4 linked regions of the Homo sapiens genome follow. The protein of the gene in region 3 interacts with the protein of the main gene of each other region in a biochemical or structural test. Each region holds a gene or a part of one and is shown on either strand. Other genes may lie near its edges. The genes, in order: TNR, SIGLEC7, TLR4 and SIGLEC6.

Region 1 (8,389 bases), on a different chromosome or scaffold from region 3:
TCTTTTGCTTCAGCTAGTTTAAGTAAGTCTCTCTTCCTTGTTACTGGAGAGCCTTGGCTAAGACTTGTTTCTAACCAGTCCACTCTGGCCCACCTCCTACTCTGTCTCCAGAATGAAGTTTCTCCCTCAGGGCCGTCTTAGGCTGACCTTGAGGCTTTCAGTTTTTCAAGGTTGAGCCTTTCCCTGGGTACCCCTCCCTCTTTCCGGGTCTTAGCCTAGTCCTGTCCTCTCTTAAGCTGCTTAGGGCTTTTGGTCCAGCACCAGCTAAAATGAAAATCACCAGACCACTTGGGTGCCACCTGGTTTGGACTTAAAATGAAGTCCTGGTTTTCATATTTGAGGTAGTAATGTGATTTAACAGAATATATCCAGTTTCTTTTCAGCATGCTGCACTTGGTGGTTTTAGATAACTTAGGCCTTTCACATTTAATTTAAATTAATTATGAAATGGGGGAAGTGGCCTCCTAGTTGCTGTGTAAGCATGATATCTGAAGCATAGTAGACACTCAGTAAATGTGTGTCGAGTAAATGAAATGAATGGAAAATCTTCTTTATCCATGAGAAAGAAGGGGAAGCATTTCAATAAACTGGAGCTTTTTGGAAAAAAAAAAAAGTGTCAGGGAAATGCAACTGACCACAAAAAGCTTTTGTCCTTCAACTCTTTAAATCCAGAAAACCCGAATCATAATGGATTGAACATATTAAAATGTGATTATGTAGCGCAGAGGGTTTTAGCTGTGGGAGGTCTTGTAATTTGCATTCACAAAATGGCCTGCCTAGAAGAAGGCAGCCTGAGTGCCTGATGAGGACACAGAGCTTCGCAGTAGGGGGTTGGTGTAGGTCAGACCTTAGCAGAAGGAAATAATTAAACAATCGTTTCCTAAAAACAGCACACAGGATTGGGAGCCAACCGTCTATTTTGTAGCCACTCTTGGATTCTGCCCTTTGTTGGCCACTTGGTAGCAATGTTCCATTCCAATCAAGGAGGTATCAACTTGCTTTCAGCTTTGGTCCTAATTTCTAAACAAACACAATCCCTGCTCAAAAAGTAAACTGGAATAAATGTCTTTCCATTTCTTCATGACTCTGTAGATGATGCCAAAATATTAAGGACATTTTTTCTTAAATGAAAATAATTCTGCCTAGCTTTACCACAAATTTCTAGATCTGGAATTTTAATTTTAAACTTAAGGAACTGCCAAACCAAAAAATACTGCAAATGTTATAAGAATGTGGTTTGACTATAAGACAAAGTTGGACTACCTTCTCCATGTTCTGTCAATATTCTAGGAGAAAAATATTCTTCAACTGCAATGTTTTCTATCCTCTTATGAACCATCTTCTCCTTTTAGCCTTTTGTCTTTTACTAATACTTTCTTAATATCAAATCACAGGAATAACTTGGGCACCTTGTAACATTTCATATCAGAAGAGGAGAAGCTGCACCTGCTATTGTTGGGCTCATCACAGACACTCCAAAATTTGGCACCTTGGTGTGCTGAGTACTTTGAATTAAAGAGGAATGAAAGAGCCTCAGAAACAGCCCCGGAAGCAAGCAAGGTCTTTCTGACCATCTGCAGTCCTCCCATCTCCTGACCCTTCTTCTCCCTTTGAAGTGATTCACAGAAATCAGAATTCCTCTTCCTCAGGGCAGGTAATAGAAACTAGAACTCCTTTTCCTCAAAGCAAGCCATAAAACCTAGAAAGGTAACTTTTTCCCTCCTCCCTTCTCCCTTGAGGACCCTCATTCCAGTGAGGTCTTGTCCCACAGAGGAGGTGGAGAAGAAATGCTTCACAGAGAGGCCAAGAAGAATCTGGGCAGACAGGCCTTGCTGGGTCTCCCCCTTAGACTATTACCATTAGATCATAGCCATTTGTCCAATTACGTTTCTACATGGCTGTCCATTATTCCTCAAACCTAAGCGTAAAAACAGACAATTTCCCCCAGGTCTTTGGGTCTTCATTTCTGAAGGCTCCTTTGTCATGTGAAACTTTGATTAAATAAATTTGTTACGCTTTCTCTTGTTAACCTGTCTTTTGTGATAGCAGTGTTGTTGTGATGCTTATATGATGGGTGAGCAAGGGCATCACACCTTTCTGCCCCCAAGTTATCGAATGTCAACTCTTCAGGTTACAGCATAACCTTGGAGCTGTGGAAAACCTCAGCCACCGGCCTTCTGGAGGGATTCCTACAGAGCACTGTAGCTTTTATGGTTATGGGGTTTCTTCTAAAACATACTATTTAGAGCAGAACCATGGTTTGAAAGCTTTTTGGGTGGTAAACTTATTTTTTAAAGGACAAAAATCTTAAATGGATGTACAAAATATAAAACAGATCAAAGTGGAGCTGTCCTGGTTGGAGGCATGAAAGAGGGAGTAATTAGAGGTCTGGCTTTCCACTGGATTCTAGCCTCAAGGCACTGCCATAGAACCTTGGTGCACTAATGGAACACAAGCTACTGCCACAATAGTTCTGAACCAACGTTTTCTAAACTGAGCTTAAGCCTTGGCACCTGATGCTGTTTGGTTTGGATTCAGTAGCAGAGCATGAATCACTAATCTATAAATGTGGTCTCATTACATTGTGTTGTGGTTCTCATCTCTGGTCAACTCAGCCTTTTGTCCTGGACTTAAAACTGGCTTTCTGGTACATCAATTTCTGTTTATGAAAAACACATAAAGCTGTACCAATAGTCACCTATCTCAATTTCTGTTACTGACAGAGAAAGTTGCTTAGCCTCTGAGTTTCAGCTCCATCAACAATAAAATGAGAACCAAAACTTATGCCAGATGCTATTTATAACTTTCGAGACATTCTTGGTGAGGACACACACACATTTATACATCACAATAGCTAATTTACAGCATTGAAGTTGAACACTCTTTGTTAGCTGAGGATACAATAAGGCAAAATATGACAATTAATGAATCAATCCTGGAAATATAATAATCTTGAATGAGGTGATCTGTGGGATGAAATAATAATAGACTTAAGCCATCACCTTGAACAGTGACCCAACCCATACCTACTTATTTTTGAATGACTTGTTTCCTACCACTTTCACTTCTGAGTATGTTCTGAGTATATGTGCGTATACCAAGTATTGAGCACTCACTCTCATCAGCACAGAGCTGATTGCTTTGTGTGCTTTATCTAATCCCATCCTCATATTAACTTAATGAAGAAGGTATTCTTGTTTATCATAAATTATTCTTGCTTATCTTGTAAAATAAATTGAAGTTTGGGAAGGTTCAGATGACTTTCTCCAAATATCATCATAGGTAAGAATGAGTCAGCTCTTGCTGCTTCCAAAGATCATTGACACCAGAGGCTGACAAATGAGTGTTCTTCATGAGTAAGATCAGCATAAATACAATGGAAATATTAAAAAAGAATTGTCTCCATGAAACACTCTCCCAGATGACAGTATTTGTAAGGATGAGTAATAGGGAAGATGATGAGCTAAGCATCTGGTAGAGTAGCTCCATTGCCAGGTACCAGAATTGTCCCAGCTCTAGGAGAAATTCTAGCACCTCTGTTGTCTCTCCACTCCTTGGGCAATTCTGTGGTTCTTTTCCAAGTGACCTAGTAGGCAGCTCTAGGGAGAAGGGTTGGAGGCACTCACCTGTGGAGACGCTGGCCGAGGTAGGGGGGCTGCGGGCCTGTTCTTTCAGAGCCACCACATTGACAATGTATTCCTCCCCAGGCTTTAGTCCTGTCTGGTTAAAGGACGTAACATCGCTGGGGACCTGAGCAATCACTCCCCCTTCATTGTTCTGGACAGTGGGGAGAAGCAGAGAGCAAAAGAGAAAAGTCACTGGGAGAGAAATCTGATGAGAGAAAGATAAAGGTGTGGAATACTAATTGTGGATTGTGAATTTAAAATGGGGGCGATGTCTCTTTCCTCCATGCTGACAGCTGAGTATCTGGGGCCAGAAATAACTCCCCATAGACTCCATAAGAATGACACCACCCTATGAGGATTTGGCAAATGGAGGATCAATTTTTAAGAACATTTCTTTGGCCACTCCTGAGTTTGCTGAGTTTGCCAATAAAAATTAGTGATGAGGTGGTGCAGATTGGCTCTTGCCAAAGATCAAATGTTTGATGGTTGCGGTTAACATTCATCAGAGGTTTTTGGCATTTATCGTAATGAACATGCCCCCGGCTATTTAGGAGAGGATAGTCATGTGTGTTTGTGTGTAAACATCTTTATATACACACACAACACATTTCAAACTAAGACATTGCTATGAGATAATTGTTTATGAGCCAGAGCTAATATTTTGCTATATCTGGAGTTTCTCATGGTGCTACATTCGGTGTGAATCTGTCGATGTCTTGTTTCCCCTTCACCCAGATGAATTAGGACTCAGTGACACAACCACATATGAAGTACAAAGAAAGGAAAAAGGAAGCTTGGAAAAAGATAATACAAAGAAGAGAAGAAGGAGACAAGAGGGAGAGGGAATGAGAAAGAGTAACTTGACGAAATTGAATCTAGGATTTATTATCTATCTTTCTATCTTATCGTTCCCTCTCTCTCTTTCCCTCCATATACTTTCTATGAGTGTCCTTAGAAATGGAGGAGACAAGAGGGCCTCTTTTGGAGGGCACTGCCATTCTCCCCTATTCTTTGGCCTCTATTTATGGTACCCAGGGTGCCTTATATGTAATTTACAGTCATACTCTTATAAATCAGTGTGATGAATGCTCCCCAGTGGCCTCAACCTACAGATCACAACAGTTATTAAACCATGTGGCCATGCATTTGACCTTGGCATTCCCTGGTCAGCCTCTCTTTTAATTAGAGTTTTACATATTGGGTATAGGTAACAGGAGAACCTGGCGTAATTTTTCTTCCTGAAAAACATTGGTAGCAATGTTCCATTCCAATTGACATGATCGTTTCAATTGTTATGTAACTCAATTGCCACATTTTATTTATCATTTTAACTCAAATAGGACACATTTGTATAGATGTCTGTTTAGATTTATTTACCTTGCTGTGATGTGACTATAATATGACTGTAAATAAGAAAATGGGGCATACAGATTTAGTGAACAGAGCCCCGGGATAGGTGGTGGGGACCCAGGTACTCGTTTTAAGCCTGTCACCAACTAGCTGTATGATGTCCTTCAAGTTTTCTGAATCGTAGTGTCTATAAATTAAACTAAACTAGATGTAAAATGAGGGGTCGTACCTGTGAACTTGAAGGTCTTTTGTAACTCCAACAGTTCACAGCTCTAAGAATTTTGAAGTAAAAGAATGGTGAAATCATGGTCTTGTTAGCCAAAAATGTGTCATTTGTCATTAAGTCTGATGAATGGCTAAAAAATGTTCTTTGATGTTGAAGAATAAAGACAGAGGGAAGGAGTATAATTGAACTTTATATCCTCATGAGTGGTACAGTTAGGGAGGACATTGGTAGGGTCAACAAATTCTGGAAATTTAGAGCCAGGCATACACCTGTGGCAATTCGGAAAAGTTAGTTTTAGAATTAAGAAAATAAATAAAATACTGCTTTAGAGAGTAGAAAGGAATCTTAGGATACTTTAAAAGTCATAGACTAATAAAAAAGTTGCTAAATTAATAGGATACAAATGTATTATGAATAATCCAGGAGAGCCAAGGTGTTTTGTTTTATGTCTGTAACCTTTAGGGATTGATGCCATGCAAGCTGACTTTTCTGTGGTGCATCTGTCTGCACAGAATGAAGCTTTTGGCTGATTATGTGATGGATTCAGCCTGGCTTTTCTTATGTCCTAAAGAGAAGCCTCAATTTTTTCAGGGTCTGGTTTTCATGCTCACCAAAACTATGGCTCATCAGACCCCAGAGTTATCTCAGCAGAGAGCTGGAGCTGGTGGCTGCTTCCCACATCCTCTGTTCTGCAAGGCCAGGGTGCCATGCTCAGGGCTACTCTTGTCAGCAGGTCGTTACCACATATTTGTCACAGAAATGTTCTATATCCCAGACACCCACAACATGCCATTTTGTGTCTTTAATGGCATGGAGAGAGATATTGGGTAGCACTTTCCTTGCTGCCCCTGATTCCAAGCTAAAGGTACAAATATTCCAAATAAGTCTGTTTGGCAGTGTAACAGGTGAGTGTTACCTTTGGAATGAAGCTGATTTCCCACCCATCGAAGGAAAATGAGAAGGGCTCCCACTGCACCTCCACGGTGGTCTCTGTGATCGTCTTAAATTGTAGCCCTTGAGGAGTGGAGAGATCTGGAACACAGCAATGTAGGTGACAATGTCATGGCTAACCCTTGGGACAGACAGCATTGCCTGGTGCTTTGTCTTGGTGAACTCCCTCCACGCCATGGGCGTGGTGGTGTCTGGTGGACAATCCCAATCTTGCTCCAGACACAGTGAGTCCCAGGTGCAGAATCAACCCACCCCATGTGGCTCTAGTGCTCGATGTTGATGGAATACATGAGTTAACTTAAACACAATCTATATAAACAATTTTTAATGCTTTTTATTGCATTAATAGGTTACTATTAAAATGCAGACATCATTTTTCTTTTCTTACTAATGTGGTAGATCTTGGCATATCATATATAGTACAGTGCCTTTTTCAGAGGACTTGAGCAGTATCTTTAGAAGCTTTACAGGACTCCCGGGAGGTACTATGATGGCTTCTATCAGTGTTCTCATTTTGCACACAGGAAAAGAGAGGCACAGAGAAAGCTGGCTAAAGTTGTGGAGCAAACCAGTTTCAGAATTAATACTAGAGTGATTTCCTTGATCATCTGATGCACATTGAGAGTATTTTGTTTAGCTCAAATCACTAAGTCTAGGATGGTCTGAATTTTTCATTTCATGTATCTCCCTCTTTTCCTCCCACCACCCCTTCTCCCCCAACCACACAGTCACATACACATGCACAGGTTTTGTGAGATGGAAGTGTGCTTGTCCTAATGGAGTTTCAATTATCAGCCCTGAAATATGACAGCATGACTTTTCTCAGTTCTCCAGGAAGCCTGCTCCCATTTTAGCTTTGCCTCTCATGGGCTATTCCCATTGGAAAAAGGACAGATTTTCTCATCCTTCCTGTTTGGAAGAGTTCTCATGCTTCTTGGTTGGAAGGCAGGGCTGACTGCAAGCCCACTTGAAGTTGTGTCAGGTGGTTTACATGATTTTGTCCTTGTCACCTGGGAGCTTGCCTGAGGGAATGCCCTGAATTGGCATAATAAATGCCACAGGAGATGGAAACCTCATCACTGTGCATGCATGTGGATCAGAGAGGAGACGCTTGGGAGTTAGGCCAGGCACTTAGGGTGGTGACTCATCCCGGAGCAAGGTGGGAAAAGCGGCAGATGGTGACCTGCCTCTCTGCACAATCATTGCAGATATTTAAAACCAGTTCTCAGGCACCAGAGGATTTTTTTTTTAAAAAAAGGTCAAATATAAACAGAGATAATTATAGGCATATTAACAGAGTCAGCACTCTTCTCATAGCGGAGTCCAAAATTATAGCAGAATTTCTGTCACCTGAAAAGCAAGGGGACAAGATGACTTCTTAAATTCCTTCCCCTCTGCCTGTCTCTATCCTTGCATCCTTCAAAGGTCAATTCAGTCCTGGAGCTTCCATGAAGATTTCAAGGCTAAATCTTTCTACCTTGACCTTTTCCTTTTCTGAACTTTCGTGGCATTTGTTACCTGAATACCATCTACCTACACAAAATGGGCTCAGATCTCTTACCCCTTATCTGGTGGTAAGTCCTATTTACTGGCCCGGGGGCTTTCTGAATTCTAGAGGGCTTATGTTTTCATGGTTACTTCTTGTTCCACTTTCTTGGTATTGCTAAAAATCTCTGTATCACTCATACCTCATCTCCTTTGAATGTTCTCTTCTCTCTTCCCAGATTTTAATCAGATACAGCCCCTTTTTCATGATCTCTCCAAAGACTTTCCACATAAGGCACAGAGGCATTTGTGTGCATGCAGGTTTTGCAGTAGACTTGGGGTGATGAGAACTTCTCTTGCCTAAATTATTCTGCCTGGCTTTTGAAATTCTAAACTAAAACAGGCTTATTGTATCAATTTAAGAATTCAGAGGGGTATAAAGAAAAATATAATAATTATTTCCTATCTCCTTCTTATTCTACTCTGTGATGTAGTCAGTGTTAATAATTGTTATGTAATCTTTTATATTTTTCTATGCTTGAACATACACAAAATATAGGTACACACCCACAGAAGTTTCCCTTTATGTATAAAAAAAACTGTTCATTTCTTATGGAGAGCAGTTTAGATTGCTTTCTGTCTCCATCTCTCTCTTTCTTCCCTGTGAATCCTTCTAAATTATGCTCTAGGGCTTCAACTTTTATAACTAAAATGAACTATTAAGATATTTCACTAAACAAAAGACCAGGAG
Region 2 (8,389 bases), on a different chromosome or scaffold from region 3:
TCTCCTCTACCTCCTAGGGTCCCACATGGGGAGGGCTTGGGCTTGGACTTGGCAGGAAGTTGGGCCCCTTCACCTCTCTACCCAGGACTCTCCCGTGTTTCTTATGGACCTGAGATGTGACTTCTTCCCTGATTTCTCCCCATAGGGCAAATCAGGCTGCATGTCCTCAGACCCGAGGACAAGACCAGAGGGGCAAGCAGGTGAGGAGAAGGTGATGGAGAAGGGCTGGGGTCTCCATAGGGCCTGTGAGGCTGGAAAGGGTCCAGGGTCCCTCTGGAGGGGACCAGCAAGAGAGGGACCCAGCCCAGTCACACCAAGGTCCGGAGATGGGGGCTCCTGGCGGAGGTCTGCAGACCCAACCAGGGCCCTGGGGATGAAATCATGGGCAGCATGGCCATTGGAAGCTCTATCTGCTGATCAGAGCTATGCAGGCTGGGGCAGGCCATGCGCAGAGCTGGGCTGTAATTTCAGGCGCCTCCTTTCTCAGCTCCTGTGTGTCCAGGTTCTCGGATTCCTTCACCAGAGGCCATGGAGTCAACGGAGATGCTGCAAACTTATGGCTAAGGGGTGCCCAGTCAGTGGTTGCTTCACTCAGTGCTGGGTGCCGGGTGAGAGAAGAGACCTCAGAATCAGGCAGGGATTAAATTCCAGTCCTGCCCTGAGTACCTGAGCGACCTGAACGCAGCCCCCGTGAGGCTCCCGCACCTCGATGCACCATGGAACGATCAAGTCAGCATGATTAGCACATCCATCAGCTCAAATTTTTATCTTTTTTTTTTTTTTTTGGTGACAACATTTAAACTCCTCTCTTTTAGCTATTTTGAATTATTCAGTACATTACTCTGTCATTGGAAACAACACAGATGAACTTAGAGGATGTTATGTTGAGTGAAATAAGCCAGGCACAGAGAGACAAACACGTTACAATCTCACTATATTCGGAATCTAAAGTAGTCATCCTTAGAGAAGTACAGAGGAGAATGGTGGGTACCAGAGGCCAGGGCGGGGAGTGTGGACCGATTGGATGGGGAAAGGGAGAGTTTGGTCATCAGGCATGCATTTTCAGTTAGACAAGAGGAATAAGTTCTGATGTCTTGTTGCACAGCATTGAGGGCTGCTAATTCTACTGGAATCAGCCTCAGACTCCTTTGCTGGAGGGGTCGTGAACCCTCAAACAAGCCCGAGCCTCTGCATTTTCTTACTTGGGGATCTTGATCTCTGAGTACTCATTGTTGGTGGCTTCTTGTCCTGATAGGTCCTGAGGCTCCCCCTTATGAAAGCTGAGGGGTGCATACTGGATCTCTCTTTCCTCCCCTGAGGAGTGGGCAGCCAGGCCATGGTGTCGGGGGTTATCATCTGCCCAGGACTCAGTCAGGTTACCCTGAATGGAGAGAGAGAAGAGAGTCAGAGCAGAGCAGTGGAAATAGGATAAGGCAGGGAGAGTCACAAGTTGTTTGATCGGTTGGTTGGTTCGGATATATTCCTCTGTATAGAATTAAACTTCATGAGTTCCTGCCTCTATCCCACGTTCATTTTATAGAAATCTCCTTCATTTATACTTTCCTGCAATATTTAACACTTATTGAGCAACTTGTTTGGTGTTTATTAATCTTATTAACTTCCCGCAACAACTCCATGAAGAAAGTAGCGTACCCAAACTCCCTGTTATGCCGGGACCCAATCCAGTCCCTTCCTTCTGACCCCAAAGCCTGGAGTCCTGCTGGGGCCCTCTGTGTGTGAAGCCCTGATCCGGGTGCTGGATGGACTGTGGTGGACACAGTAGGTGTTGGCCCTGACCTCCTGAAACTCACTTTTTAATTGAGGGAATTTGGCAAAAATGACTGTCAAACAAACGAATATCTATGTGTGAATTATAAGATGGGCAGGAAGAGGCTAAGTGAGAGAGAATTACAGGGCCTTGATTTGGATGGGGCACCTGCTCTTAGGAAGCTCACAGTTCGGTGGTATGGGGAGGACAACTCAGTCAAAGAAATTATATCCTCTGATAAGAAGTATAACTGCTCCCCAAAATGTCCATACCCTAATCCCCTGAAACCTGTGAATCTGTTACGTTACATTGCTAAAGGGACTTTACAGATGGAGCTAGGTTAAGGATATTGACATGGGGAGGTTATCCTGGATTATTTGGGTGGGCCCAGTGGAATGACAGGAGTCCTTACAAGTGAAAGGAGGAGGGCTTAGAGAGATTGGAAGATGCCAGGCTACTTGCCTTGCAAACAGAGGAAGGGACTTGAGCCAAGGAATGCAGGTGCCTCTAGAAGCCAGAAAGGGTGAGAAATTGCATCCTCCCCTGGAGCCTCCAGAAGGAACCAGCCCTGCCTGCCAATGCCTTGATTTTGGCCCAGTGACACCCATTTTGGGGTTGTGACCTTCAGAACTTTAATCCATGTGTGTTGTTGGAAGCCAGGAAATGCATGGTAATTTGTCACAGCAGCCACAGGAAACTAATACAGACTCACACAGCAGAGAGTGACAGAGGCTGCCTGGGAGGGTCCTCCTTCATCGCAGCCCTTCCCTGCTGCTCCCCTGTGCAGAAGATGCTCCATGGAACTGTCAGTGATTTTGCTTGCCAGATTCTCTCTTGATTACTCAAATTAATATTCACACACATACCAAGTCTAAGCACTGCTACTATCAAGGTCACTGTGACTACCACTTAAGTGGCTGAGTCTAAATGTCCACCTTGCAGTCTTCTCCTTCCTGGACTTTTCAGCAGCAGAGGACCCAGCTGCTCACCTTCCCTACACAGAAGGCCTTCTTGACTCAACTATAGGACATCATGCTTTTCTGGGTCCACCTCACCTTCTTGGCAACCTCTTTGCCAATTGCTTCAGGTCTCCCTGACCTTAAATATCAGAGCAGCCCCGGGTTCTTTTCTTCTTTACCTTTGCCTTGTGATCTTATCCACTGTGTTGGCTTCATGCCATCAATAGGCTAATGACTCCCAAATCTGTACCCCCAGCCCACTCCTTTCTCCTGACTATAGTCTTTGATCCAGTGGTATAATTCAAACCCCCGCGTTCTTGTCCAAAGACACACAAAACTCAACCTATTCAATCTGAACTCCTCCTTTTCTTTCCCAAATCCATTTCTTCTGCAATCTTCTCAGCCTCAATGATTGGCACCTCCATTCTTCCCACTGCTCAGGGCAAAAATCTGGAAGTAATTCTTGCTCCCTTTCTGTGGCTCACATTCTAATTCCAATTCATTAACAAATCCCAGTAGGTTCCACTGCAGAATTCATCTGGGAGACAGTCATGTCTACCACTGCTGCTATCTTGGTTCCAGCCAACACCACCTTCTGCCTGGGATGTTCACCAGCCTCCTGTCTACCTCCTATGCTCTCTCCTTCCCCTGCCACACACACGGTCTCTTCTGCACACAGTGGCCAGAGGAATCCCATGAAAATGAAAGTTGATCATGTTCTTCTGGTCTACAGCTATACCACCCTGAACGGACCCAATCTCGTCTGATCATGTCCTTCTGCTCAAAACTCTCCAAATGCTCACAGTAGCCTGTGCAGTCAGACACAATTCACATAGGCTCAACTCCTCCAAAGTCATTTCCTGCTCTCAGTCCTGCCTCCCTCTGTCTAATCACACAGATGTCCCATGGCTCCTCTCCTTTCCTCTTCCTGTGCCTGGGCCTTGCTTTGCTCCTCCCTCTGCCTGGAAGGCTCTTCAATCACACAATAAATGTCAGATCTGAGCCTCCTTCTGTTCCTACTGAAACTATTCCCAAATACGGAGGAAGACTGACTCTTCCCTAACTCATTCTATGAGGCCAGTATCATCCTGATACCAAAATCTGGCGAAGACACAACAAAAGAAGAAAACTTCGGGCCAATATCCTTGATGAACATTGATGCAAAAATCCTCAACAAAATACTTGCAAACTGAATCCATCAGCACATCAGAAGGTTAATCCAATATGATCAAGTCGGCTTCATGTTGGTTCAACATACACAAATCAATAAATGTGATTCACCACACAAACAGAACTAAAGACAAAAACACATGATTATCTCAATAGATGCAGAAAAGGCTTTTGATAAAATTCAGCATCGCTTCGTGTTAAAAACTCTCAGTAAACTAGGTATTAAAGGAACATATCTCAAAATAATAAGAGCTATCTATGGTGAACGCAGAGCCAACATCATATTGAATATGGAAAAGCTGAAAGCATTCCCCTTGAAAGCCAGCACAAGACAAGGATGCCCTCTCTCACCACTCCTGTTTAACGTAGTATTGGAAATTCTGGCCAGAGCAATCAGGCAAGAGAAAGAAATAAAGAGCATCCAAATAGGAAGAGAGGAATTTAAACTATCCCTCTTTGCAGATGCATGATTCTATATCTAGAAAACCTCGTAGTCCCAGCCCAAAAGCTTCTTAAATGATAAATAACTTCAGCAAAGTTTCAGGATACAAAATCAATATAGAAAAATCACTAGTATTTCTATACATCAGGAACTACCAAGCCAAGAGTCACATTAGGAACACAATCCCATTCACAATTGCCACAAAAAGAATAAAATTTTTAGAAATACAGCTAACCAGGGAGGTGAAAGAACTCTACAATGAGAATTACAAAACACTGCTCAAATAAATCAAAGGTGACACAAATGGAAAAACATACTATGCTCATGGATAAAAAGAATCAAAATCATTAAAATGGCCATACTGCCCAAAGAAATTTATACATTCAATGCTATTTCTATCAAACTACCAATGAGATTCTTCACAGAACTAGAAAAAACAATTTTAAAATTCATATGAAACCAAAAAAGTGCCCAAATAGCCAAGGCAATCCTAAGCAAAAAGAAAACCTGGAGGCATCACGTTACCCAAATTTAAACTATATTACAAGTCTACAGTAACCAAAACAGCATGGTAGTGGTACAAAAACAGACACATAGACCAATGGAACGGAATAGAGAGCCCAGAAATAAAGCCACACACCTACAACAATTTGATCTTCAACAAAGCTGACAAAAAAAAGCAATGGGGAAAGGACTCCTGATTCAATAAATGGTGCTGGGATAACTGTCTAGCCACATGCAGAAGATTGAGTGGGACTGCTTCCTTATACCACATATAAAAATCAACTCGAGATGGGTTAAAAACTTAAATGTAAAACTCAAAACTATAAAAACTCTGGAAGACAATGTAGGCAATATCGTTCTGGATAAACAGGCAAAGATTTCCTGACAAAGATGCCAAAGCAATCACAACAAAAGCAAAAATTGACAAATGGGATCTAATTAAACTTAAGAGCTCCTGCACAGCAAAATAAACCATCAACAGAGTAAACAACCGGAATGGGAGAAAATACTTGCAAACTATGCATTAGGCAAAGGTCTAATATCCAGCATCTATAAGGAACTTAAACAAATTTACAAGAGAAAAACAACCCCATTAAAAAGTGAGCAAAGGACATGAACAGACATTTTTGGCCAACAGACATATGAGAAAAAGCTCATTATCGCTGATCACTAGAGAAACGCAAATCAGAACCACAATGAAATATCATCTCACACCAGTCAGAATGGCTACTTTTAAAAAGTAAAAAAAATCACAGAGGCTGGCAAGGCTGCAGAGAAAAGGGAACACTTATACTGTCGGCAGGAGTGTAAATTAGTTCAACCACTGTGGAAAGCAGTATGGTAATTTCCTGAAGAGCTAAAAGCAGAACTATCATTTGACATAGCAATCACATTACTGGTTTTATACTCAGAGTAATAAAAATCATTCTACCATAAAGACACATACAAGCAAATGTTCATTGTAGTACTATTCACAATAGCAAATATATGAAATTAACCTAAATGCCCATCCATGACAGAATGGATAAAGAAAATATGGTACAAATACACCATGGAATACTGTGCAGCCATAAAAAAGAATGAGATTATGTCTTTTGTGGGAACATGGATGGAGCTGGAGGCCATTATCCTTAGCAAACGAACACAGGAACAGAAAACCAAATACTGCATGTTCTCACTTATCAGTGAGAGCTAAATGATGAGAACTCATGAACACAAAGAAGAGAACAACAGACACTGGGGCCCACTTGAAGGTGGAGGGTGGGAGGAGAGAGAGGAACAGAAAAAAATAACTGTGGGGTACTAGGCTTAGGACCTGGGTGACAAAATAATCTGTACCACAAACCCCTCTGACCAGAGTTTATGTATGTAACAAACCTGCACATGTACCCCCAAACCTAAAATAAGAGTTTTTTTTAAAACTATCACAATTACTGAGATTTTTGGCACCTTCTTAAATTTTGCATGCTAGGCCAGGACCTCACTCATCTCACACTAATTCCAGCCCTGCTAGAGAGGTAGATGTTTAAGAGACGAGAATGTGCAGGGCTGCAGTTATGAAGTTTGGGCTTTTTCTCTAGGTTAGGGCTTGTCAAACTAGAGCCCTTGGGACAAATTCTACCCACAGCTTGTTTTTATAAATAAAGTTTTACTGGCACACAGCCAGCTAATCATTTACACATGGTCTACGGCTGATTTCCTGCTACATCAGTAGAGTTGAGGAGCTGCAATGAGACTGTGTAGGCCAGAAAGCCAAAAATATTTCCTATCTGGCCTTTCCAGATAGTATTTTCTGGCTTCTGCTCTAGACAGTGTTGGGGGTGGGAACAGCTGTCCAGATGCAAAGAAACTGATCAGTGATGGCTTCTGAATGATTCCTCCCATCAGGGCAGGGGACACAAGAGGCAGGGAGGTGAGGAAGTCCAAGACAGAGATCCTCAGGCCTCAGCATTGAGAGAGTTTAGGATTGGTGGGGGTGGGAGCAATGCTAGCCATTCTTAGGGAGGAAAAATGGACAAGATTTGGTGAATGTGGAGCTATAGAGAAGAAAGGGAGGACAGAGAGGAGATAACTCCTCCTCCATGCCTGGCCCGAGAGAAAGTAGGTAGGAGGGACTGTCATGCAGTCAGCAAGATGGGGAATCCTGCAGGAGAAGCTGGATGGTGGGAAGGAGGAGGAGATGAGGAGATAATTTTGGCCATGATAAGCAGAGAAATCCTGGAGGCCATCCTGTGGGAGATGTCCCAGCTGGATGCTGGGTGTGGAGACGCCCATATCACTCACCTGAGAGGCTGAGCCCCTGATGGTGTTTGCATCCTTCATGCCTATGTCTCCCACGTCCGCTGCTGGCCTTGCCGATTTCTTCCTGCAGGACCTCACTCTGAGTGAAGAGACCAGAGAGCCTTTCAGTGTGGTCAGATCGGGGTGCAGTGGGCAGACCAACCCCTGCCCTGTATTTCCTGTTGGGGCGCTGGAGGGGTAACTGAGGTGGGAGGAGGGTGGTCCAGTCCCAGAGACCCCAGTGTTGAAAACAGAGGCTCCTGCCTCCTGGGTGGTGGGGCCCAAGGTTCACCACAGATGTGGAGCCCCACAGACAAGGGCGCTCTTGAAATTCTTGCCACGCACCCGTGAGCTCATTCTTGCCCCAAGCTCTTGACCCATGCAGTCCCTTCCAGCTCTGGCTTCAGGGATCCTGCTCCCAGTCCGCCCTCCCCCAGGACTCTCCCTCCCTCCCTAGGGTCAGTGCTCACACAATGAAGATGACACAGAAGGAGAGGAAGACCAGGGCTGTGGCTCCAGCTCCCCCGACCGCCCCCAGCAACACTCCTGATACAGGCCTCATTTTGCCTGAGGATGGATTGGAATTGTTTTGGTGATCCAACTCCAAGAACTGGGTCTCTTCTCCTCCCACTTCCTATAAGGCCCCCAACTTGGGTACCCTAATCCCCCTTCCCAGAAACAAAGGGCAAGAATGGGAGGGAGGAGGAAGGGACAACTCCTGAGGTCACTGAGGCATGAGAGTGGTAAGCACAGCCTGCCTGTATTTGAAATTTTGATTTGTATTCACTGTCAAATTATTTTGCAATAATTTTTAGTTTTTAATAAAGATAATCACATCCAATATTATTTCACTTGCTTGCTGAGTTGTTTTATTTTTTGTTTTTTAGTCGTGTGCCCAGAAGTGAGTGCCTTGCTTGTGTCACCCTAGTCCAGGCACTGGAAAGCAAGGCACGTGTCTCCCCAAACACACCTGTCCAGGCCCCAGCTCCTCCCCTCCAAGACCCACTCCTCCCCTCTTCCTGCCTTACACACCTTTCCTGGCAGGAAGAGGACAGCAGTGCCCTGGGTTGCAGGGAAGTTCCAGGCCTCACAGCTGAGCACAGACCAGAGCTGAGCTCCCCCTTGAAGCTCAGGGGCAGTGGGTGGCCCATGAGGGTGGGGCAGGTGTGTTCTCCTCCTCCAGCCCCTCCCTTACCCACCTGTGTACTCCTGTTGCAGGGAGAGGTTCAGGGAAACGTGCTGGGAACCCAGAGAGTTCTGAGCTCG
Region 3 (8,389 bases):
GGCTGGCTGAGGCCTGACTTTACTCTTTCTTCTCCTTCTGTTCTATGCATATAATTTCTTTCCCTGCTTGTCCACCTCACCTGCCATTTCTAGAATTTCCATCTGGGAGAGGGAACTGATAGGAAGGAGGCCAATGTCAGCCTTGAATATTTCGGCCTTGAAATATTCCAAGTTGTATGTTGATCTTCCTTCTCAGAGCCTTGTACATTTGCTTGAATAAACACACTTATGCAGAATTCATATTCAAATATGAATAGAACCACACTTACATGTAGCACGGATATACACAAAATCATACATTTTCAAGCATACTAAGAAACTGAGGCATACATCTGTAGATAAACAATCATGTATGTATGTTAGTTCCTCACTTATCCACAGTTTCACTTTCCCAGGTTTCATGGTCAGTTATGGTCTGAAAATAGGTGAGTACAGTACAGTAAGATATTTTGAGAGAGAGAAAGAAAGAGATCACATTCACATAACTTTTATTACAATATATTATTATAACTATTCAATTTTATTGTTAGTTATTGTTAATCTCTTACTGTGCCTAATTCAGAAGATGAACTTTATCTTAGGTATTTATGTATAGGAAAAAATATTGCATATATGAGGTTTGGTACCATCTGCGGTCTCAGAGATCCACTTGGGGTCTAAGAACGTATCCACCAAGCATAAGGGATAAGGGGAGACTACTGTACAAGCACAAGAGTAGAGAACTCATCTCAAACAGCCATAGACATCCATTTCAAATGGATGTATTCTTCAAGAAATATAATCACACTCTCTTCTATACAGATATGATCATGCGGACACACACACTTTCAAATACACACAGCCCTGATAGGGATACATAGGGATATGTGCACAAATGCACACATCTACTTTCACTAGTACATGAGACATGGAAACACACCCAGGGATGTTCAATCACCCTAGACCTGCTCAAACCAAACACACTCTGAAACACTCAGTAACAAACACTTCTGACTGTGGTCATATTTCCAGTTTTGACAACTGAATTTTGTTGTCTTTTCTTTTTTATAGCTTCATTCAGACATAATTGATATTATAAAACTGCATATATTTAATGTATACAATTTGATGAGTTTAGACATAGTCACATACCTGTCAAACCATCACCACAATCAAGGTAATAAATATATCCATCACCTCCAAAAGCTTCCTTGTGTATATGTATATGGTAAGAACACTTAACATGAGAGGTACCCTCTTAACAAAATGTTAAGTGCATAATACAGTATTGTTCATTATACGAACTCTGCTATACAGCTGATCTTTAGAGCTAATTCATCTTGCATACTATAATTTTATACCAATTAGACAACTCCCTATTTCCTCATTTCTCCCTTCCTCCTTTTCCCTAGGAACCACTGTTCTATTCTCTGCTTCTATGAGTTTGACTATTTTAGAACCTCATATAAATGAAATCAGGCAGTATTTGTCTTTCTGTTACTTGCTCATTTTACATAGCATAATGGCCTCCGGGTTTATTCATGTTGTCATAAATAACAGGATTCCCCCTTTTTTTAGGCTGAATAATATCCCATTGTACGTATATGCACATTTTCTTTGTCCATTTATTTTTCAATGGAAATTTGGGTTGTTTCCATAACTTTGGAAACAGTGATTGTGAAGAGTGCCACAATGAACATGGGAGTGTAAATATTTTCTTGAAATTCTGATTTCAATTATTTTGGGTATATATACAGAAGTGAGATTGCTGGATCATATAGCAGTTCTATTTTTAATTTTTGAGAAACCTCCGTACTGTTTTTCATAACGGCTACACCATTTTCCATTCCCTCCAGCAGTGAAGAAGGGTTCCAATTTCTCTATATCCTTGATGACACTTCATTTTTTTATAGTAGCCATTCTACCTGGTATAAGGTGATATCTCATTGTGGTTTTTATTTTCATTTCCCTGATGACATCCTGATTGTCCTTTTCTTGAATGTTCTGTTTCTGAGGAGGCTGGATGAACATTCTTTTCTGGGAACCTTCTTTATAAGAACCCCATTAATTCCAGACACATTGTTTTCTCAATGATAACATCCACTCTTCCCAAAATGTGGTCAAGGAGCATTGCCCAACAGGAAACAGCAATGTATACTCCCTGCCTTGAATACCTTCACACGTAGTTCTCCTGGCAGTGAGAAGGGTACAGGGGAGGGATCCCAGCCATCTGTGTCTCCCTAAAGAGATTCAGAGGTCCATCAAACATCACTTGTTCTGAAAAAAATAAACTTCTGCTGCAACTCATTTCATGAGGTCACCCCGGGTTTATCAGCCCATATGTTTCTGGAATCAAGAAAAGGTGACCTCCTGAGGTCATCCCACTTCCTTCCTGCCTCTAGCCCAAATTGTCCATGATAAGACCAGGAAGCGGAAATTTTCTTCCCGTTTAAAAGAGTGCCCCCTTTAAACAAATTATTTCAATGCTGCTTTCATGACAGTCATTACTTAGTAGGCAATAACTTTGGAATGACATCGAGTGACAAAGTGACAGAGTGTACTTTTCCATACTTCCTTGAAAAATAGTGGTTAATATGGATATTTGAAGCACGTCTTAAACAACCTTATTTATGATATTAGCTTATAGGCAAGACGTAAAAAAATGAAAACTGGATATATAAAAATAAAAATATATCAGGGGTGATTAGTTAAAAAATAGAACATGCTCGAGAATGACCAGGATGGTTGTGAGCATGTGTTAATCAGGTTTCCTTAGGAATTAGCCACTAGACTTTAACCTCTGTAAGGAGACAGACTTAAAATGGAAGGGGCATCTTGCATCAGGAGCCCCTTGACGACTGCAGTCATCAAGTAGAATTTAAATTGTATTCAATCAAAAAGGAAAAAGTGAACACCCAGTTCAGTCAAAACTACCAAAATGGTTTTATGATGGCTATAACATAATACAATTTCCATTCAAAAGACTCAGGAAAAGAACAATGTCTCTTTCTGTTTTCTCTGTCTTTATTCAACTTGATGAGGTAAGAGTTGAAATGACTTTCTTTGTCATGGGTTCCTTGACTGAGTTGGTTGAAATGCCCACCTGGAAGACTCTGTATTTTAGTCTAGCATTTATTCCCTCTGCACTGGAAGCTCCTTGAGATTAGCAGCCCTGCATATCTAGTGCACCATGGAATTACTCACCCTTAGCATAAGGCCTGACATGTGGCAGCATTTAATACTTATTAACTGAACAAGTGTTGGACCCAGCTGGGCAAGAAATGCCTCAGGAGGTTTTTATTTTTCCTCTTCAGATAGATGTTGCTTCCTGCCAATTGCATCCTGTACCCACTGTTCCTTCTGGATTCCATGATTTACCATCCAGCAGGGCTTTTCTGAGTCGTCTCCAGAAGATGTGCCGCCCCAGGACACTGTCCTCCCACTCCAGGTAAGTGTTCCTGCTGAGAAGGCGGTACAGCTCCACCTGCTGCCTGAGCAGGGTCTTCTCCACCTTCTGCAGGACAATGAAGATGATACCAGCACGACTGCTCAGAAACTGCCAGGTCTGAGCAATCTCATATTCAAAGATACACCAGCGGCTCTGGATGAAGTGCTGGGACACCACAACAATCACCTTTCGGCTTTTATGGAAACCTTCATGGATGATGTTGGCAGCAATGGCCACACCGGGAATAAAGTCTCTGTAGTGAAGGCAGAGCTGAAATGGAGGCACCCCTTCTTCTAAATTCTTTACTAGCTCATTCCTTACCCAGTCCTCATCCTGGCTTGAGTAGATAACAAAGGCATCATAGATGTTTTCACCTCTACCATACTTTATGCAGCCAGCAAGAAGCATCAGGTGAAAATAGAACTTATAGACCAGAACTGCTACAACAGATACTACAAGCACACTGAGGACCGACACACCAATGATGGTCTTATTCATCTGACAGGTGATATTCAAACTCAGCACAGGCATGCCCTGCTTATCTGAAGGTGTTGCACATTCCATTCGTTCAACTTCCACCAAGAGCTGCCTCTGGTCCTTGATCCATTGCAGGAAACTCTGGTGTTCACAAGTACAAGCAAAGTCATTCTGAGTAAGATTTAAGAAAGCTAGACTACTTGGAAAATGCTGTAGTTCCTGTTTTTTGGAAGTCATTATGTGATTGAGACTGTAATCAAGAACCTGGAGGGAGTTCAGACACTTATAAGGAAACGTATCCAATGAAAAGAAGTTGTTGTGGCTCATATTTAGTACCTGAAGACTGGAGAGTGAGTTAAATGCTGTTGGAGACAACTGCTCCAGTTGACACTGAGAGAGGTCCAGGAAGGTCAAGTTTCTCAGCTCTGTGAAGATATCTGGAAGGAAGTTTTCCTGGAAAGAATTGCCAGCCATTTTCAAGACTTCGAGACTGGACAAGCCATTGAAGATGCCATTGAAAGCAACTCTGGTGTGAGTATGAGAAATGTCAAGGTAAATGAGGTTTCTGAGTGATAGGAATACTGAAAACTCACTCATTTGTTTCAAATTGGAATGCTGGAAATCCAGATGTTCTAGTTGTTCTAAGCCCAAGAAGTTTGAACTCATGGTAATAACACCATTGAAGCTCAGATCTAAATACTTTAGGCTGGTTGTCCCAAAATCACTTTGAGAACAGCAACCTTTGAAACTCAAGCCATTTCTACTGAGATCTAGAAACTCAAGGCTTGGTAGATCAACTTCTGAAAAAGCATTCCCACCTTTGTTGGAAGTGAAAGTAAGCCTTTTGAGAGATTTGAGTTTCAATGTGGGAAACTGTCCAAATTTACAGTTAACTAATTCTAAATGTTGCCATCCGAAATTATAAGAAAAGTCTTTTACCCTTTCAATAGTCACACTCACCAGGGAAAATGAAGAAACATTTGTCAAACAATTAAATAAGTCAATAATATCATCGAGGTAGTAGTCTAAGTATGCTAATCGGAATTCTTCAATGGTCAAATTGCACAGGCCCTCTAGAGCAGATTTGTCAAACTTTTCCAAGTTTCCTTCATTTCTAAATTCTCCCAGAACCAAACGATGGACTTCTAAACCAGCCAGACCTTGAATACAAGTTTTCATTACATTTAAACTATCAAAATTATTTCTTAAAGTCAGCTTATGAAGCCTAATTTCTTTAAATGCACCTGGTTGGATAAAGTTCATAGGGTTCAGGGACAGGTCTAAAGAGAGATTGAGTAGGGGCATTTGATGTAGAACCCGCAAGTCTGTGCAATAAATACTTTGAATCTTGTTGCTGGAAAGGTCCAAGTGCTCTAGATTGGTCAGATTAGAAAAATACTCAGGTAATTTGAAAGATTGGATAAGATTGTGAGCCACATTAAGTTCTTTCAAAGTTTTGAGATGTCCAATGGGGAAGTTCTCTAGAGATGCTAGATTTGTCTCCACAGCCACCAGCTTCTGTAAACTTGATAGTCCAGAAAAGGCTCCCAGGGCTAAACTCTGGATGGGGTTTCCTGTCAATATTAAGGTAGAGAGGTGGCTTAGGCTCTGATATGCCCCATCTTCAATTGTCTGGATTTCACACCTACAGGAATAAAAAGACATTGATTATCTAATATTTCTGCTGAATAAGAACCTAAAATAGAATATTAATCCTAGTCATCCAGCTCTTCATACAGATGTGATGGGTCATATGATTGTGCATAGGCAAAGACATCAAGCAGGACAGATGATGATGGAATAAGCAAATAAGAAGCCCCACAGACTGAGTATTATCATACTGGCTGCAATGATAGGCTCTTTTTTGTCATGTTAGGCATACATGATAAGCAGAGGAGAAAATCCATAAGAAGGAAATCAGTTAAAGATCAATAATTGACATATATAAAGATTGTGCAGTTGATAAAGCATGTAATAGCCTTGGATCAAGTTTAGCCATTTTCTGTCACACAAAATTGTGATTATACATCTGATTGGTACAGATAATATGGATAGTTGTTAGTTGGTAGCCAAGATAAATGACTGGTAAATATCAATTTCAGAGATACGAAAAATTACACATAAGTGTCACAGATACTCTTAATGTTTATGAAAAGTGCTTACATGACAGCTAGATATTTGAAAGTTCTTGTTATCAGAGGTAAATGCTTGTAACAGGTGATAGGAGCGAGTTTTGTGGAAAAAAGTGAAAATTATGTGCTATAAGAGTTCACATCCAGAGAACCGTTGTGGACCAAGAAAATCAAAGTAGGTTTCTCTGAGAACACTTAAGTTGAAAATTGAAAGATGAGTAGAAGTTAACAATAAAAGGAGGTGAAGTGAACAGCAAACACAAAAGCCCCAAGGTTGACAGAAAAAAAATGACACAAGGAGGAATCATGACAAATAGCTTCCATGGTTGGAGAACAGAGATGAAATTGGAGTGTACAATATGGAGTTGTGGAGAAAGAAGGTTCCCAATTAGGCAGAGGTTTACCAACCAGATAAAGGGTTTTGAATTTTATCCTAAAAGAAATGAAAGCCATGCTACACACAATGTTCAGAGACATGTCCTAGAGACAGGGCTTTGATGCAGCCAGCAAACAGCAAGCCAATGAAAAATTCCTTTCAGCATTGCAGGTGCTTGTCAGTTACAATGTACAAATAAGTTCTTTCTTAATCCAGCCTGAATTACATTTACAATATTCCCCACCCATTTTATTTAGCTTCTTCAGGAGTTTCCTAGACAATAAAAGCATTGTGGTCCAAGCTTTTGTTATTTATTGGTAACTAGATAAAGGATAGGCAGTATAGTAGAAAGAACGCTGGAAGAGTGGACAAAAGAGCTTGGGTTTGGTGTTTCTGCAGTCCTCTCCTACTGTGTGATCTTGAGTACCTCTTTTCCTCTCTAGGTTTTAGTTATCACATTTATAAATCAAACAGCTGAACTTGATTATTTTTGAAGTTCTTTCTTTCAATTATATGATTGTTATAGCCCATCATTCTATCTCTGCATTGCTCTATACATTAGGTGAGAAGGAAAGGGTCTTGCTGTGTCTCTATATCATTACATTGGTGATAATCACTTTAGAGAAGTAGAGTATTAAGACAAAGAAAACATTTAAGTTGGATTCTGGAGATGTGAACTTAAATCTCTGGTCTGTGGCTAACAAGCAATGATAATGTATATAAGTCATTTAAATTATTCAAGCTTCAGTTTCCTCACCTATAAAAAGAAATATATATATATTTCTATAGGGGAAAGAAGGCTGCCTGGTCTATCACAAAGCATTCTTACAAGACTAGTTGAGTTACTGTATGTGAACACTGTACGAAAAGGCAAAGGATGTCTATTGTGCTATCTTTTGTGCTTGCCCTAATTCAGAATCTCCTATGGGTTAACAAGAAGGGAAGCTGGCCTCTCTGTAAGCACAGATTTAAGGTTTCTGGGGCAAGTTTATTGGGTATCCAGTGGATTGAAGATGAATTACATAAGAGACATTGTTTGGTGAAAAACTACTTCTTGTTTGAAAAAAAAAAAAAGGGAGAGGTGGTCTACCTTAATAGAGTACTTGACAAAATTTTCATGCAGGAAACTGAAATTTAGAACATAATGGCATAGATGCAGCTAGTAGCCATTATCCTAAGCAAATTAACAAAGGAACAGAAAGCCAAATACCATGAGTTCTCACTTTATAAGTAGGATCCAAACATGGAGTACACATGGACATAAAGATGACAAAAATAGACCCTGGGGATTACTAGAGAGGGGATAGAGAGAAAGCAGCAAGGGTTGAAAAACTAACTATTGGGTACTATGCTCACTACCTGAGTGATGGTATCGATTGTACCCTACACCTCAGCATTACGCAATATAACCATGTAAATCCCTGAATCAAAAATAAAAGTTGAAATTATTTTAAAAACCTAATGAAATTCTGTAAGAATACTTTATGCTTATAAAATATATTTTATAAAAATTTAAATATATACAGCATATTAATATTTATTATCACATTTAATCCAGCAGAATAAGTTTCATCATTTCCATTGATCAGATATGAAAACTAAGATTAAGGGAGATGAAGTAATATGCCTAAGGTTACATGGTTATAAAGGTTGGGGGTAAACTTGGCTCAGGTCTTCTGACCCCAACAGGACTCTATGCACTATACCACTGCCTTTGAATTGTTCCATTACTCCTTTGTTACATCCTATCTATATCCAAATTAGAGTATAATAGGTCGTATGCTCACTCTTCTACAGAAATGTCTGCTCTAAAAAGGATTTTTATACTGTGACCTTAGTCTTTATCAATAATTTCTATAATAAAAAATATGTAAAATGTTTTGAAATGTTTTACAAACCATTGCAGAGAACATGATCCATTATCTAGTTCGATTTGCAAATAAGGCCCCGATGATGAAAACCCTTTTAGAATTTGGT
Region 4 (7,065 bases), on a different chromosome or scaffold from region 3:
CTTTTAATTGGAGTGTTTAGACCATTTATATTTAATGTGATTATTGATTTGGCTCAGTTTAATTCTACCAGATTGCTCTGCTTTATATTTATATTTGTCCTTTTATATTTATCTCCCTTTTTTGCCTTTTTGATAGTTTTAAAATATTACTACTTTTTTTTTTTGAGATGGAGTCTCACTCTGTCACCCAGGCTGGAGTGCAGTGGCACGATCTCAGCTCACGGCAAGCTCCGCTTCCTGGGTTCACGCCATTCTCCTGCCTCAGCCTCCCGAGTGGCTGGGATTACAGGTGCCCGCCACCGCGCCCAGCTAATTTTTTTTTGTACTTTTAGTACAGACGGGCTTTCACCGTGTTAGCCAGGATGGTCTCCATCTCCTGACCTCGTGATCCACCTGCCTCAGCCGCCCAAAGTGCTGGGATTACGGGCGTGAGCCACTGTGCCCAGCGGACCCTTACTTTTAATCTGTAACCCTTCTTGAGTCCTAACGGAAGGTTTGAGGTGTTTACTGGGCCTCTCCTTATCAGACCTGGAACATCAAATTTGGTTTACCCAGTTCCATCAGACTGCTGAGAGGAGAGTTACTACTTTTATCCTCTAGCAGGGTTGTCCAATCATCTGGCTTCCCTAGGGCACATTTCTTTTCCTTGTTGGTTTTCAGCAATAGGATTATGACATGCCTAGGTGTGGTTTTCTTTGTTTTTATCTTTCTTGGTATTTGCAGATATTGTTGGATATATGACTTGGTATTGTGAAAACATTTTAATCATTGTTTTTTCCATAATTCTTTAACTCCCTTCCCCTTTCTGGGATCCCAGTTGCACCTGTGTCAGAATGCTTGATATTGTCCCACAGGCCAATGAAGCTGTGCTTATTTATTTTTCGTTTTTGTGTTTTCTTTGTGCCTCAGTTTGGAAAGTTTTTATTGCTACGTTTTTTAGTTCATTGCTATTTTCTTCTGCCGTACCTAATCTGCTATTAGCTTTTCTTTTTAGATATTGCCATTTTTCATCTCTAGAAATTCAATTCAGTTTATTTTTTTTTTCCTGAGACAGGATCTCACTCTGTCGCCCAGGCTGGAGTGCAGTGGCATGAACATGGCTCACTGCAGTTTCGACCTCCTAGGCTCAAGTGATCCTCCTGCCTCAGCCTTTCAAATAGCTATGACTACAGGCATGCACCACTGCGCCTGGCTAATTTTTTAAACAAATTTTTGTAAAGACAGGGTCTCACCATGTTGCCCAGGCTGGTCTCAAACTCATGGGCTCAAGCAGTACTCCTGCCTCGGCTTCCCAAATTGCTGGACTTACAGGTGTGAGCCACCACACCCAGCCCAGTTCTTTATAGTTTTCATTTCCTTATTATGTTCTGTTTTCCTTTAAGTTTTTGTTATTGTTGAGAGAGGGTTTCACTCTTTTGCCCAGGGTGGAGTGCAATGGCATGTTCTCAGTTCACTGCAACCTCCACTTCCTGGGCTCAAGCAATTCTCCAGCCTCAGACTCCCGAGTAGTCGGGACTACAGGCGTGAGCCACCATATCTGGCTAATTTTTTTGTGGGTTAGGGATTAGAGATGGGATTTCACCATGTTGCCCAGGCTGGTCTCGAACTCCTGAGCTCAAATCAATCTGCCCACCTCAGCCTCCCAAAGTTCTGGGATTACAGGCATGAACAACCATACCTGGCCTAAGTCTTTGAATATGTGTATTTATAGCCGTTTTTAATCTTCTTTTCTGCTAATTCCATCATTTGGTGATATGTTTCTATTTACTGATATACTTTTCATTGCTTACATTCCACAGCTTCTTCGCATAGGTAGTGATTTTGGTGGCATACTGGACATCGTGTTACATTGTTGATTATCCGGATATTTTAATCTTCCTTTAAAAATTGTTGAGCTTTGTTCTCGAATGCAGTTAATTTATTAGTGGATTGTCTTGACCATTCAAAGATTTTTACAAAAGCTTTGGCAGGGTGAGTTTATATTTGCCTTCATTCCAGCTTTCTCATAGCTGTTCCTTCTCCAGCAGCACGTACCCAGGCTTTCAGCCTTTCACTCTGTGCATACAGCTTAGTATTCAGCCAAAGATTCAAGGGGACCTCTATGCATATTTTTTGGAGTTCTTTCTCTGTGTAGTTTTTTCTCTCTGTACTCTGCTCTACAAATTCCACCCACATCATTCCCACTTGAACTGCAGTTGCTGCCTCCACAGTTTCATAAGACTCTTGTGTTCTGCTTGAATTTATCCTCCACGTACTGCAGTTTGGAAATTGTCATTTGATCATGAGACTCACCTCATTGGTTTCCTTTCTTTCAGATGTCACAGTCCTGTCTGCCTGTTTTCCTTGTGAAACACATATTTTACATACTATGTATAGTTTTCTAATTATGCTGGGAGGGTGCCAGTTACTCTACCATAGCCTGAGTGAGAACTGACCAAGAATAATTCAAGTCATGATTCCTGTTGTTCAGACCCTCAGGAAAAATTGGTGCTGGGGGAGGTAATACCTAGACTGTCTTCCAAAAGTCTGGGATGTGTGGATGGGGGAAGGTGGCCAGGGGAAGCCCAGGGAGAGGCAATTTCCACCTGTTATTTTCTTCATTCAGTAGGGCTTTTGTGCTGATCTGTCATTTCTCCTGCAGAAATTCACACCTTTAGTCTCGGACTTTGCCACTGATTTGTGTAGCAAGAATGCAGGCAGGAATATATTATCCCAATGATGGAGGAAAGACATGAGTGGAACATAAATCTCATTTCTGTAGCCATTCACGCACTGTCACCAATGCCTCCCTGAACACACACACACACATATACACACACACACACTCCAGTATAAAATATTTTGTTTCCCCAGAGATTTCCCACTTTTTCTTATTTGCTCATTCCATAATTTCTTGTATTGCCTCTTGGTTTATTTGGAGATATAACACACTTAGTGTGTGTTAAATCCCCACTTTGTTGGGAATCATTACATAATTTCTTTACCATGCTTTACTTTCAAGTTTTCAGGGGCATTAGAAAGAGAAGGTACAGGAGAGGGCGTCCGGTGGCCTGTACTGCAGGACCCGGTCTCTGTTCTGTCCTCCAGTACCTGTCTAGGAATCAGATATGCCACTCCTGCCCCTGCTTTATATTTCAAAATATCTGCTATCATGAATTAAAAAAGTGATTTTGTTTCCTGTTTTTAACTAACTGCATCTCATAGAAAACCACACTGCCTACTATCTGGGACTGTGTCTGCTTTCTTCATGGCTTAACATCTAGCACATGTCACATGACCTACACAACAATAAGCTGGTTCTGAGTCCTTCTCAGTGGTGCATTTATATAGATGTGTGTCTATAGGCAACATGTGGAGCCTCTCTTAGCCTTAGTGTTCCCGTTTGTAAGATGAATGTAATCATGGAATCCACTGCAAAGCATTTTTTGAGAATAGAATATGACTGATTAATGTAAACACTCACTAAGGGCTTGCCAATCTTAATTATTAAATATTTTAAAATAAATGAATGCGGTGGATGTGGTGGCTCATGCTTGTAATCCCAGCACTTTAGGAAGCCAAGGTGGGTGGATTCCTTGAGCCCAGGGTTCAAGACCAGCCTGGGCAACATAGTAGAACTCCATCTCTACAAAAATTAGCCAGGTGGGGTGCATGCCTGTAGTCCCAGCTACACAGGAGGCTGAAGCAGAAGGTTCATTCGAACCCAGGTGTTCAAGGCTGCCTGAGCCGTGATCATGCCGCTGCACTCCAGCCTGGACAACAGAGCGAGACCCCATCTCAAAAATAAAATAAAATAAAATGAAATAAAATAAAATAATAAATGAATGGATAAATAATAAAGTTCCATCAGTTCTACTCCCTTTCTGATCCTTGGCTGCTTTCTTTGAGAACCTATTGTCCAGCCCTGAATCTTTTCTTTTCTTCCATTAAGGGTCATCAGCACCAGTTCCAGACAGGCATAGTTTCAGACCACCCTGCTGAGGCTGGCCCCATCTCAGAAGATGAGCAGGAGCTCCACTACGCTGTCCTACACTTCCACAAGGTGCAACCTCAGGAACCAAAGGTCACCGACACTGAGTACTCAGAAATCAAGATACACAAGTGAGGAATTGTCCAAAGCCATAACCTTGATTGGAGAGAACATGGTACCTCTCAGTGTATTGGTTACTAGGGCTGCCACAGCAATGTACCACAAACCGAGTGACATAAACACAGAACTTTATTTTCGTATAGTTTCAGATGTTAGAGGTCTGAGAACAAGGTGTTATCAGGGTTGGTCCCTTCTAAGGCCTCTCTTGTTGGCTTGTAGATGGCTGTCTCCTCCTTGTGTCTTCACATGGTCTTTCCTCTGAGTGTGTTTGTGTCCTAATCTTCTCTTCTTATAAAGACACTAGTCATATTGGATTAGGGCCTCCCCATGACCTAATTTAAATAAATTAACTATTTAAAGACCCTCCAAATACAGTAACCTTCTGAGATATTGAGATTTAGGACTTCCAACATATGAATTTTAGAAGGGAACAATTTAGCCCATAACACTGTGTCCAATTCTTTTAAAATTAATGTTTTTGTTGTAAATGGACTATATAAATACCTTCGTATATATGGCAGACCACAGGACTTCTGTCCAAGAGAACTGAGTTCAACTCCATCTATGCCAGCTATTGAGCAAGTCGCTTTATGTCCCTGCTCTGTAAGGCAGGGAAATAATTTCCATCTAACCAGATTATTGTGAAAGGTCAAAGAAAGCATACAGCTAACATACAGCTTTGTTAGCTGTAAAACAGCTAACAAAGGCCCTGACACAAAGGTTTTCATAAAGTCTGTATATTTTTGTAAATGAATGCCTTGTATCTGGCTTTGGCTAGCTTTTTTTTTTTTTTTTTTTTTCTGAGATGGAGTCTTGCTGTATCTCCCAGGCTGGAGTGCAGTGGTGCGATCTTGGCTCAGTGCAAGCTTCGCCCCCTGGGTTCACACCATTCTCCTGCCTCAGCCTCCCAAGTAGCTGGGACTACAGGCACCCACCACCACACCCGGCTAATTTTTTGTATTTTTAGTAGAGACGGGGTTTCACCGTGTTAGCCAGGATGGTCTTGATCTCCTGACCTCGTGATCTGCCCTCCTCGGCCTCCCAAAGTGCTGAGATTACAGGCATGAGCCACCGCACCCGGCTTTGATTAGCTGTTTTAACAGACGGTTTCTGCTGGCAATTTCTTCTAAGGCTGAAAAGGAGTAGGCCCAGAGGCCACAGCACCAGGTGTCTGTGTCACCCCCTGTTCAGAACTCTTCACGACTCCCCAAAATAAGGTTTCCATCCATCATCTTTCTGCTCAAGGCTCTCTACATGATCTTGTCCATCCAGATTTCCCCAGATCAATTCCTCACCAGTCACCAATACCCCATGTCCATTTCCACAGCTTCCTCTTACAAATCCCAGTCTCCACTATTCCAGTGAAATTGAAGAAAGCATTTAATGAAGACCAACTATTAAGGAAAATTCTTAAGAGTAGCCATGAAAAATAAAAAGATAGATTACACTTAAAAGACCACAGTTAGCAGTGGCTCACGCCTGTAATCCCAGCACTTTGGGAGGCTGAGGTGGGTGGATCACTGGAGGTCAGGAGTTCGAGACTGGTCTGGCCAACATGGTGAAACCCCATCTCTACTAAAATACAAAAATTAGCTCGGTGTGGTGGCACTTGCCTGTAATCCCAGGTACTTCTGCAGGTTGAAGCAGGAGAATTGCTTGAACCTGGGAGGTGGAGGTTGAAGTGAGCTGAGATTGCATCACTGCACTCCAGCCTGGGCAACAGAGCGAGACTCCAACTCAGAAAAAGCAAAACAAAACAAACAAACAAGCAAAAAACCACAATTAGACTGACAGCTGACTTTTTTAGGAGCAATATTGGAAGGCTAAATGCAATAGAAAGATGTCTTTGATGGCTTAAGAGAAATAAATGTTGTTTTAGAAAGCCTACTCAATGAAAACACATTTTAAGACTGAAAGTGAAATATAGATATTTTAAGGAAAACCAAAATATGTGAGTGTTAATAAAGAAAAGATTTCTCAAATAAATTCTAAAACATATAATTCAGGTATTAGGAAAGTGATCCCAGATTAGATTTTTGAGATCCAAAAAAAATGAAAACCTAGGAAAGTAGCAAATATGTGAGCAAAATGAAACAAATACTTGTTGTAAAAATGATGGTTTGTAGAGGGGTCAAACATCAAATGTAATATTGAAATACCAATATTATATAGCCCAGAAACTATAATAACATAAAGTTCAGAAGAGTGTAAATAGAATTTATATTACATAAAGTCTTTATATTTTTCCAGAGAAAATTAAATGTTATGATGAATGTTACATTTGGATAATTTATTATTGTAATCTCGAGGAAATTTACTTAAAGATTCGAAGCCAAGTTTACCACCTGTGAACTAGAGGAAGTATAAAAGGTGATAGAAACATTATTCAGTCAAACCAGAGAAGACAAGAAATAAGAGATTAAAGAAAAAAAGGATGGATAGAACATGTAGAATACAAGTATAAGATTCTGTATTTAGACTCAAATACAGTCTAAGAATCACATTAAGCACAAGTGAATTAAATGCTACAGTTAAAATACCAGCATAGTAAGACTGGGGGAAAGTGTAGCTATACGTTGTTTATAAGAGATCTACATAAAAGATAAATATAGGGGAGGTTGTGTGTAGAAGGATGAAAAAAGACATACCATGAAAACCGTAACCAAAAGAAACTGATGTAGTCAGTCAAGTTTCCACTGGAAAAAACAAGTCTGTAGGATGTATGTATTGAAAGATTCAACTATTCACAATAGCAAAGACATGGAATCAACCTAAATGCCCATCAATGATAGAGTGGGTAAAGAAAATATGGTACATATACTCAATGAACTACTATGCAGCCATAAAAAAGAATGAGATCATGTCCTTTGCAGGGACATGAATGGAGCTGGAGGCCATTATCCTTAGCAAACTGACACAGGAACAGAAAACCACATACCACATGTTGACACTTCTAAGAGGGAGCTAAATGATGA

Evidence for each region.
Region 1: the proteins of TLR4 (region 3) and TNR form a complex in vitro, tested with the Homo sapiens proteins (one study listed by IntAct).
Region 2: the proteins of TLR4 (region 3) and SIGLEC7 form a complex in vitro, tested with the Homo sapiens proteins (one study listed by IntAct).
Region 4: the proteins of TLR4 (region 3) and SIGLEC6 form a complex in vitro, tested with the Homo sapiens proteins (one study listed by IntAct).

The regions. Positions count from the first base shown.
Region 1 is NC_000001.11:175,387,662-175,396,050, forward strand, and holds part of TNR (tenascin-R isoform 1 precursor), read right to left. Parts: intron 6,235-8,389; coding exon 6,119-6,234; intron 3,778-6,118; coding exon 3,627-3,777; intron 1-3,626. UniProt on the Homo sapiens protein: Neural extracellular matrix (ECM) protein involved in interactions with different cells and matrix components.
Region 2 is NC_000019.10:51,146,055-51,154,443, reverse strand, and holds the end of SIGLEC7 (sialic acid-binding Ig-like lectin 7 isoform 1 precursor), read right to left. Parts: coding exon 8,323-8,389; intron 7,691-8,322; coding exon 7,594-7,690; intron 7,224-7,593; coding exon 7,127-7,223; intron 1,522-7,126; exon of another isoform or gene 1,382-1,521; coding exon 1,199-1,381; 3' UTR 918-1,198; downstream 1-917. UniProt on the Homo sapiens protein: Putative adhesion molecule that mediates sialic-acid dependent binding to cells. Preferentially binds to alpha-2,3- and alpha-2,6-linked sialic acid.
Region 3 is NC_000009.12:117,709,549-117,717,937, reverse strand, and holds part of TLR4 (toll-like receptor 4 isoform A precursor), read right to left. Parts: intron 5,550-8,389; coding exon 3,290-5,549; 3' UTR 1-3,289.
Region 4 is NC_000019.10:51,517,122-51,524,186, reverse strand, and holds the end of SIGLEC6 (sialic acid-binding Ig-like lectin 6 isoform 1 precursor), read left to right. Parts: intron 1-3,931; coding exon 3,932-4,105; 3' UTR 4,106-6,368; downstream 6,369-7,065. UniProt on the Homo sapiens protein: Putative adhesion molecule that mediates sialic-acid dependent binding to cells. Binds to alpha-2,6-linked sialic acid. The sialic acid recognition site may be masked by cis interactions with sialic acids on the same cell surface.